Homo sapiens: one gene and its partners. The protein of the gene in region 1 purifies or fractionates together with the protein of each later gene. This does not show direct contact. Each region holds a gene or a part of one and is shown in the gene's direction. Other genes may lie near its edges.

Evidence for each region.
Region 2: the proteins of CHODL (region 1) and ATP7A purify together in Homo sapiens (affinity purification with mass spectrometry; one large-scale study listed by BioGRID and IntAct). This does not show direct contact.
Region 3: the proteins of CHODL (region 1) and HELLS purify together in Homo sapiens (affinity purification with mass spectrometry; one large-scale study listed by BioGRID and IntAct). This does not show direct contact.

What each region holds. Positions count from the first base shown.
Region 1 is NC_000021.9:18,247,735-18,251,393, forward strand, and holds part of CHODL (chondrolectin isoform a precursor), read left to right. Parts: intron 1-3,659. UniProt on the Homo sapiens protein: May play a role in the development of the nervous system such as in neurite outgrowth and elongation. May be involved in motor axon growth and guidance.
Region 2 is NC_000023.11:77,917,097-77,920,755, forward strand, and holds part of ATP7A (copper-transporting ATPase 1), read left to right. Parts: intron 1-3,659. UniProt on the Homo sapiens protein: ATP-driven copper (Cu(+)) ion pump that plays an important role in intracellular copper ion homeostasis.
Region 3 is NC_000010.11:94,548,713-94,552,371, forward strand, and holds part of HELLS (lymphoid-specific helicase), read left to right. Parts: intron 1-3,659. UniProt on the Homo sapiens protein: Plays an essential role in normal development and survival. Involved in regulation of the expansion or survival of lymphoid cells. Required for de novo or maintenance DNA methylation. May control silencing of the imprinted CDKN1C gene through DNA methylation.

The sequences.
Region 1 (3,659 bases):
CTAATTTGGAAACTACCTTTAGGAGCTTAGACCTGTACTGATTTCTTACTACACACAGATGTGTAGAGAATATCTATGGGAGCTGCAATCATTTAATTTTGTGAAGTGACTGGTGAGTAGTGATGTCTTCTTTAGGACAAAGGTAAAAGGATTTTACTTGTAGGCATAAGGATAAATATGAAGGATTCCAAATTCAGGTCTCTAAGTTGGGAGGATATGTTTGAAGAGCAAGTGATACTTTTAAACATTTGAAGTGTTTTGAAGTAATGTGTTTCTTTTTTTTTTTTCCTTTTTTCTTTCTAGTGTGCATAGCAGTGATCCCCAACCTATTTTTGCTGCAAAATGACATTAGGAATATTTCATGGTGCTTCCAGATTTCTCCAGGACACTTTAATATATATCAGTTTAACTTTATTAAAACTGGCACATGTTTTATTTAGGAGACTGGGTGATTTAGAGGCCTCTCTTCTTATCCTGTGGATACCATAGAATATTGCAAATTCATGGGTGGTGAACAGTAGCACATACATTAATACAATATGATATAATATATACCAAGGGAGATACAAGAAAAACTGCTGAGCCTTTCTCAGCCTATGGAACTAATCTATGACATCATCAAAAGCATAAAATGATGACAGTGCAGTTTTCAGAGATGCAATTACTTTAAGTATCTCTCGGGCATGAAAGGAACAAATTAATCTTATTACCAGTCATTTAATGAACTAACCATTTATCATAGCCATTATTCTTCAACTGCTGTTTGTCATCATTTTATGGTTTTGTTTTATAACTCTTTCCCAAAGATGGCAGTATCTGTTACATTACCTTTATAAAAGGTAATGTATTTTATATATATATATAAAATATATGTATAATACATATATAATATATATAATACATATATGTATATATTATATACATATATATGTATAATACATATATGTATATATTATATACATATATATGTATATAATATATACATATATATGTATATAATATATATGTATAATATATATGTATATATGTTATATATAATATATGTGTGTATATATGTATATGTGTGTATATATGTATGTATATTATATATGTATGTATATTGTATATGTATGTATATATACATTGTATATGTGTATATATATGTATTGTACCTATAATATAATACATATATATGTATAATACATATATATGTATACATATATATTATGTATACATATATATGTAATATATACATATATGTAAATATATATTATACATATATGTATTTATATATAATATATATTATACATAATATTAATATATATAATATTATATATATTATATATAATTTACTATATATAATATATATATAATAAAATATATATATATAATAATATATATATAATAAAATACATATATAATAATATATATATATATAAAGGAGTCCAAGGTTAAAATTCAGAAGATGCACTCACAAACAATTTTTACTATTTACAACAACTTTCTGTGTCAGGAATTCATATACAAGTAGATGGATGTGTGCGACTCTAGGATGAGAGTGTTTCTTTTACTATTTTAACATATTCCTCATGATATAACACAGGATGACAACTTGGCTAAAGTTATACTCTTTGTAATGTGGAATGCATTCAATTTGGATCTAGTTTGTTTTATTTGGAAAATAAAAAGACTAGATAAAAATTTATTAAAGGCATATATGGTTTGAAAATCTGAGACAGAGGCAACATTAATTCTTATTTAAATATTTGTAACAGAAAATCTAATTCTGTTTAGAAACAAGCTCTCAATGCACAAGCCTTGCTTATATTAGCCACCCAATAATCAATAACAGATTAATGCTTATGATTCTGACATAGATAACATGCACAGTGTTTGTGTTCATCAATCCCTTTTGTTCATGAAATATTTCACCTTTATATTAGGTTTGAGACATATGGAGACAGCATAGAAACCTGGTAAAAGCATGGAGTGTAGAGCCAGATGGCCTGGTTTCACAACCCAGCTTCAGCACTTGTGAGCTGTGTGAACTGCCCTCTTTGCCTCATTTTGAAAACAGATAAGAGCACCTATGTCATAGGATTGCTAGGAATATTAAAAAGGTTCAAACACAGTTATGCAGATTGTGCACTGTGTCGAGGTACAAGCCAAAGAGACAGGAGAAGGAGCTCAGCTTGGCAAGCCCAGTGCCTGTAGCTCAAGCTACCTAGAGGCAAAATCAACTTTTTCTAGTTGAACAGTCTATAAGAGGGACCTTTCTGCCATCTCTCACCAGGAGAGGTCGTCTTTTCCCAATTTATCCCAAAGCATGGATTGTGGTAGAAATGAGGTGCTACATTCTAAATTATTGCTAAATTTGAGGCTTTTATTATTAGAATCATTACTTCTATAAAACTCATAACTGGTCTCATTATTTAAGTAAGAAGACTGAGGCCAGGGGTGATTAAATAATCTCAAGTACCCAAAGTTCAAGTGTAGAGTTTGGTTTCAAAGCTAATTCATTTTGATTGGCTACATGAACTCTTAAGTCACAATGATACTTGGTTTACTACTTATTATTCTAATCTCCATTGTAAATATTCTGATTTTTTAAAAAAATAGTCTCATGCTCTTCTCAGAAAGCTTACGCATTTTCCAACTGGAAAAGTAGGGCTTGCTGCTGCTGCCACCATCCAGAAAATGACCACAACCTACATTTATAAACTTAATTTAAAATTATAAATAAAATTATAAATAAATTTGTTTATTAATGTAAGAAAATAGACTCCAGCTATAGTGCACTATGCAATTAAGTACATTATAAAATCTCTGTTGTAAAAATAAAAGTTTATTATAATAAAACTCTTTATAAGAAAAAATTTTAAGAAGTTGGTGTAACATTGAATGCTGAACGCAGAACACTTGAACACCAGTCATTTTCTTTTTAGTTCAAAAGTGTTGGCACTGGTATCACAGTCCTTGCTGCACTGTGTATGGTAGTATCAACATATTTATCAGTGTGATTGTGAGGGGGGTAAGAAGAAATTATGAAAAAGAAAAAAATATCTTGTGTGATTCTAATAAAACATTCTAAGTTAATTCAGTCTGGTTTGGGGAATATTTACCATGTGGATGCTCTTTTTTACTTTTTTTTGCAACTAATGGTAGATCATAATTGAACAGCAGGAATTTGTAATATGTCTTTTATATTTTTATTGAAAAAGTGATATAAATTCAATATTCATCTAATATTAATAATATATAATTATAGCGTGAGATATTAGAAAATATTTATTATTTTCATAACTAACTGAGCACTCAACTATCAGAAAATAAACAAATATAAGCAAAAAGAAAACCAAATTATAGATCCTTTCTGCTCAGAAAGAAAAAGCAAACTACCCTGACTTCATGAGTTTGGCCCCACTTTATATCATTGCCAAGAGCATTTAAACCTCTGCCAATAGTTAGCTCTATAGAAATTTTAATGGCTAAGGAAAAAGACAAAAATCATCTACTTATTCATGGAAAGAGTGATGAAATCTTTGTTGTGACAGTGATAGGAGTGTTAATAATAATAACTTTCTCTAAATAAAAGGGCCTGTTTATTTATGTAGCTGTGTGTGAAACTAATAAGGATGAATATTTCTTTTATATAAAATAAATGTATTTTATTTGTTTTA
Region 2 (3,659 bases), on another chromosome or scaffold:
AAGTAATAGAACTTAAATATGTGCAAGAAAACATTCTAGGTGAGGGGACCAGTTCTAAACAAAGTCATAGAAATAAATGATAAGAGCATGGACTATATGGCAATCAGTGAAGGGACTTGCTTGATTGTAGTAGAGATTTTATGTTGGGGAGGAGCACTGCAAGTGATAGATGCAGACCATCTTTTGAATGCTTTGAAGAACTATTTAAGTCTGTCTAAAAGTCCTTTGGATACACTGTTCTGGAGAGGGTTTGGGGCTTTGGGGTCATACTGCCTTGGTTTGATCTCATCTCTACTCTAATTTGTTTAAGTTTAGAATTTTATAGTAAGTTTTCTCAGTGACACAACTCTATAGGCAACAAACTGATATTTACAGAGTGGTTGGGGTCAGTAACCCTTGTATCAGTTAAGCAATGTACACATGAAGTGCCAGTAGGAAGTCCAAGGAAAGGTTGGGAGAAATAAAAGGAGGTTAGTAAAGGAAAGAGAAATAAATACATTCTGTGATAGTTGGTAGAATGTCATCAGAAATGTCTTCAAGCAAAACAATACATTTGCCTGTCTTTTGTTTCTAGTTGCGTTTAATGGTAGTGTGTTTTCCTTGTCTAAATATGAGAAAGAGAAACTAAACTGCAGCTACTTGACGTGGGCATCTGAGAGCTACCAATGGTTGGCTTAGGTTATGTTCTACATTTGAAGCATCTGGTCAGTTTTAGATTGTCTTCTATATTTGAAGCATCTGGCTAGACCACTTGTGTCCCAGTTTTCTATTTTACCTAAACTCAACTTGGTCAGAAGCTTATGTAGTAAGTATTGTTTGTAACCTGTGTTAGTACTCTCTTAACATGGCTTAAAGCATGAATGGATTGTCAAATGAATACCTGTTATGACCTGTATTTTTTCTTGTTACCTTTGGATTTAATGTAAGTATAATAATGCTCTAAGAACATTTGACAGTATTGTTCAGGCACTTTTTTTTTTTTTTTTTTGAGACAGGGTCTGGCTTTATTGCCTAGGCTGGAGTGCAGTGGCACGATCACAGCTCACTGCAGCCTCAACCTCCTGGGCTCAAGCAATCCTCCTACTTCAGCATTCCAAGTAGATAGGACCACAGGCATGTGCCACCATGCCTGGCTAATTTTTAAAATTTTTTTTTTGTAGAGACGGGATCTTACTTTGTTGCCCAGGCTGGTCTTGAACTCCTGGGTTCAAGTGATTCTCCTGCCTCAGCCTCCCCAAAGTGCTAGGAGTACACAGGCATGAGCCATCATGCATAGCTGCTTATTCAGGTGCTTTTAAGAAATTTTTTCCACCAGAAAAGTAGAAATGATCATACCAGACTACCTTTGTCTCCTCCCAATCTTTTATTATGGTGATGTCCAACCTTGTTATAAGGAGGAGCTTCTTTTAATCTCAGAGTCATGAGATCAGGGCAGATACTGACAGTATAGTTCCTGAGAAGTAGTTGCTGGCTGTGCTGTTCTTCCTTTCCCAATGGGAATCTTAGCTGAGACATGTAGCAGAGAGAAGACATTATGGGGAGCCAGCATGGAGCTTTATAGGAGGTGAGGTGTCTAGATCTACCAGTAGATCCCGATTTGCAGGTTTGAGACTCCTACCTTATTTCATCCATGGCTGTTGCATTGTACAAATCTAGTGGGCAGCAGCCACAGTCTGTAAAAATTATGACATGGAATTACACAATGTGGCAGCCCTGGAAACTACCCAAACCACTTCTATTTCTAGTCCTGTATTCCCTTCAATACCTACTACATCCAGCAGCCGTGATAGTCCCAACACGTTTATCATTTGACTCTCTTTGCCTCCCACTTGAAGGCTCCCCTTTAATCCAACAGATAAAAATTACATCTTTGTCTAAGGATTTCAAGGTGTTGCATAAATTTTCTTATTCTATTTAAGTATACTCATCAAGAAAATGATAATAACTGCCTCGTCTAATTCATAGGTTTTTATCAGTATCAAGTGGAATAATGTATGCAAAAACTTCATAAATTAAAGAATACTACACAAATATAATATTCTTTTCAGATATATTATGTTGTGGAAAGAATACTGAATTCCAATCAGATGTCTGGCATCTCAGTTCTTTCTGCTATTAACAAACTGTGACTTTGGACAAATTACTTTGTGCTCTGGGGACTTTGTTTCCTTACCTATAAGAGGAAACTTATAATGCCACTCCTATCTACCCAGACACCTAAGAGCTACTTTTTCCTCACCTCCACATTCAGTCACCAAATTTGTTGTCTAGTTCTTAAAATTTCTTAAGTTGGTCCTGCCCTCTCTATCTCCATTCAGTTCCTAATCACTTCCCTTTTGGGCAGCAGCCTGTTAAAAAAAATTGTGGTAAAATATGCATAATATAATATTGACTATTTTAACCTTTTTTTTTGAGACGAAGTCTCACTCTGTCACCCAGGATGCAGTGCAATGGTGTGATCTCTGCTCACTGCAGCCTCCGCCTCCCAGGCTCAAGCAATTCTCCTGCCTCAGCCCCCTGAGTAGCTAAGATTACAGGCACACGCCACCCCTGGCTAATTTTTGTATTTTTAGTGGAGACGGGGTTTCACCATGTTGGCCAGGCTGGTGTCAAGCTCCTGACCTCAAATGATCCACCCGCCTTGGCCTCCCAAAGTGCTGGGATTACAGGCGTGAGCCACTGTGTCCGGCCCCATTTTAACCATTTTTAAAGGTACAAGTCAGTGGCATTGAGTGCATTCTCAGTGTTGTACAATCATCACTGTTATGCATTTCCAGATTTTTTTCATCATCCCAAACTGAAACTCTGTACCCATTAAATAATAGCTTCTCATTCTGCCTTCTCTCACCCCCTGGTAACCTCATTCTACTTTCTGTCTCTATGAATTTACCTATTCTAGGTACTTTTTGAAAAATAATTTCAACATTTATTTTTGATTCAGAGGGTACATTTGCAGGTTTGTTACCTGGCTATATTGCATGATGCTGAGGTTGGGGTACAATTGATCCTGGCAATCAGGTACAGAGCAGAGTGCACAATAGTTTTTCAACCCTTGCCCCACTCCCTCCCCACCCAGTAGTCCGCAGTATCTATTGTTGCCATCTTTATGTCTATGAGTACCCATTTTTTTTTTTTTTGAGACGGAATCTCGCTCTGTCGCCCAGGCTGGAGTGCAGTGGTGTGATCTCGGCTCACTGCAAGCTCTGCCTCTCGGGTTCATGCCATTCTCCTGTCTCAGCCTCCCGAGTAGCTGGGACTACAGGTGCCCGCCACCACGCCTGGCTAATTTTTTTTGTATTTTTAGTAGAGACTGGGTTTCAACATGTTAGCCAGGATGGTCTTGATCTCCTGACCTCGTGATCCGCCCACCTCGGCCTCCCAAAGTGCTGGGATTACAGGCGTGAGCCACCGCGCCCGGCTGAGTACCCATTGTTTAGCTACCACTTATAAGTGAGAACGTGTGGTATTTGGTTTTCTGGTCTGCGTTAGTTTGCTTAGGATAATGGCCTCCAGCTGATTCCATGTTGCTGCAAAGGACATGATTTTGGTCTTTTTTTAATGGCTGCATAGTATTCCATGGTGTATATGTACCACATTTTCTTTATCCAATCCACCATTGATGGGCACCTAGGTTGATTCTATGTCTTTATTATTGTGAA
Region 3 (3,659 bases), on another chromosome or scaffold:
GCCTGGCATGGTGGCTCACGCTTGTAATCCCAGCACTTTGGGAGGCCGAGGCGGGTGGATCACCTGAGGTCAGGAGTTCGAGACCAGTTTGGCCAACATGGTGAAACCCCGTCTCTACTAAAAATATAAAAATTAGCCAGATGTGGTGGCGCATACCTGCAGTCCCAACTACTCAGGAGGCTGAGGCAGGAGAATTGCTTGAACCCAGGAGGCAGAGGTTGCAGTGAGCCGAGATGGCATCACTGCACTCCAGCCTGGGTGACAGAGCAAGATTCCGTCTCAAAAAAAAAAGTATGTAGCCGTTTTCAATCTTAATATAAGTGTGTAATTTGCTAAAACATTAGTGTTGTGGTTTCGTATTACATTGTCTTGTTATGTACAGATAAGGAAAGTTTTTGATTATTTTTTGCACTGGACCCTCATAAAAAGTGATTGCCTAGATGACACTAGAAAATTCTAAGAAAAGTTTTCAGAGTCTCTACCTACTTGAGATTAATAAACATGTCTTTGGAGGCCAAACAATTAACTATGCACAGGTAGAGATTCCTTTTCTTTTGGGAGAATACAGTCTGTATGGGCATGTATTTAGAAGTACTTAACAGAGGAAGAGCTAGCTTAAGTTCCTTAATGAGAAGCATTTGGCTTTAGGAAATCCTAAGGTTTGTGAGGAACCTAGAAAATGACTTTGACATTCATTGGCTACAGTTATTTTCTTTGACTTTTCACATGTATTTCCCTTTAAAAGAAGTCATTGTTAGTCTAGGAGATTTGAGTACTGATAGTGCCTGTGAAGTGGAGGAGGGGGAATAGTTGGAGTCAGGAGATTTCTTGGAGAGGTAAAAGGATCATGATATGTGTAGGCTAAAATAGAACTCCTCCCACCCCCCAATAAAAAATCTGGGATTGGTGTTGGGAGAGATAATGGGGTAGATAATGAGGAATTTCTGCCCTCGGTGTCCATTGGCATACTCTGTACTGTAGTTACCCAGAGTTGTTTCCTGCCAGGCACTCAGTGCTTTTAATAGATGGAGTTGCAATTTACCGTAATATAATCATGAAATTGATAAATAAAGAAAAAACAGTGATAGGAAGATTTGAAATACAGAAGACCAGGTTTAAGGATTAACCACTTACATGGTATTATTTTAATATTAATTGTATATTATTTTTTTCCATGATGGCATCTTAAAGCTTTAGTGATTTTTATTTTTATTTTTATTTTTTTGAGACAGAGTTTCACTCTTGTTGCCCAGGCTAGAGTGCAATGGCGCAGTCTCGGCTCACTGCAACCTCTGCCTCCGGGGTTCAAGCAATTCTCCTGCCTCAGCCTCCTGAGTAGTTGGGATTACAGGCATGTGCCGCCAAGCCTGGCTAATTTTGTATTTTTAGTAGAGATGGGGTTTCTCCATGTTGGTCAGGCTGGTCTCGAACTCCCAACCTCAGGTGATCCGCCCGTCTTGACCTCCTAAAGTGCTGGGATTACAGGCATTAGCCACCATGCCCAGCTGATTTTTTTTTTTAGGAAAAATTTTTCCAGGAGCACCAGGCAAGTATTTAGGTTTTTTTTGCTTGTTTGTTTGTTTTGAGACGGAGTCTCCCTCTGTCACCCAGGCTGGAGTGCAGTGGCGTGATCTTGGCTCACTGCGACCTTCACCTGCCGGGTTTAAGCGATTCTTCTGCCTCAGCCTCCCAAGTAGCTAGGACTACAGGCGCGTGCCACCACGCCCAGCTAATTTTTTTTGTATTTTTAGTAAAGACGGGGTTTCAACATATTGGCCGGCCTGGTCTCAAACTCCTGACATCGTGATCTGCCTTCCTCGACCTCCCAAAGTGCCAGGATTACAGGCGTGAGCCACCATGCCTGGCTGTATTTAGTTGTTTTAAAAATATGTGCTGGCCAGGCGCGGTGGCTCATGCCTGTAATCCCAGCACTTTGGGAGGCTGAGGCGGGGCAGATCGCTTGAGCCCAGGGGTTAAGACCAGCCTGGGTAACAGGGTGAAACCCCATCTCTACAAAAAATTAAAAAACTAGCCGGCATGGTGGCACGCGCCTATAGTCCTAGCTACTCAAGAGGGTGAGGCAGGAGGATTATCGCTTGAGCCTGGGAGGCGCAGGTTGCATTGAGCCGAGATCTCACCACTGCACTCCAGCCTGGGTGATAGAGCGAGACCCTGTCTCAGAAAAAAGAAAAAGTGCTAATTCTGTACAGGATTTAAGGTATCAACTATATCTAAGTTAAACCCACGTTATTTTAACTGAACTTAAATTTTAAAAGTTAAAAATTTAAGAATCCATATATTGTGTAAGTAATTTTCATCTCCCTGTTTTCATATTCACCTCAGTAGTTGCGTATTGTAACCACAGTAGTATACTGGTAATAGTAAAAGAAATTCTGTCCTAAAAGAACTGAAAATTGAGTTCAAGATATTAAGAATTATCTGTGTAGGTGGGATTATGGGTGATTTATATATTTTTTGACATTTAGTTTTTCTGTAATGAGTATGCATTACTTTTGTTAGGTCCATTCTTAGAATCTTACTGTAGTCACTGATTTTATAATAGAAATATATTTTGATGCCGGGTACGGTGGCTCACACCTATAATCCCAGCACTTTGGGAGGCTGAGGCAGGTGGACCACGAGGTCAGTTCAAGAGCAGCCTGGCCAAGATGGTGAAAGCCCGTCTCTACTAAAAATACAAAAATTAGCGGGGTGTGGTGGCAGGTGCCTCTAGTCCCAGCTATACTGGGGAGGCTGAGGCAGGTAATTGCTTGAACCCGGGAGGCGGAGGCAGAGGTGAGCCAGGATTGTGCCACTGCACTCCAGCCTGGGCAACAGAGTGAGACTCCATCTCAAAAAAGAAAAAGAAATATATTTTGAAAGAAAGCTATAGTGATGATGTAATAGCTAGGAAAATGTAAGGCAATATAAAATGATATCTTAGAGATATTGATAAGCTGGAGCAGCAAAACTACCCAAGTGCTAGGGCATTATTTAGAGTATAAAAATGAATTCATACCCCCATTTCTTTTCTTTTTTTTTTTTGAGATGGAGTCTCGCTCTGTTGCCCAGGCTGAAGTGCAGTGGCGCGATCTCGGCTCACTGCAAGCTCTGCCTTCCGGGTTCACGCCATTCTCCTGCCTCAGCCTCCCAAGTAGCTGGGACTACAGGCGCCTGCAACCACACGCGGCTAATTTTTTGTATTTTTAGTAGAGACAGGGTTTCACCGTGTTAGCCAGGACAGTCTCAATCTCCTGACCTCGGGATCCGCCCGCCTCAGCCTCCCAAAGTGCTGGGATTACAGGCGTGAGCCACCGCGCCCAGCCTCATATCCCCCATTTCAAACACGCTGTAAACAATGCTCAATTACTTTCCTCTTAAGTTGAAACCACCAATTACTGGGGAAAGGGGCAGTTAGATTTTATTGGTTGACTTTGTGTTTTTACTAATCCTTGTTGAAAAGTAGAGGAATTGGTTTAGTTGAGAAAACAAAATACTAAAAAATCTGCCACTAGACTTTTTAAGTCAAGAGTTTGTATAAAATGAAACATATCTACTATCTAATCTATAAAATTTAGAATCTTTTTAATTCTAAAGTTAACTTAAGTGTGATTTTTAGTGCTGTTGCTGAGGCCAGTGTTGCTTAAAGCAGGAACTTC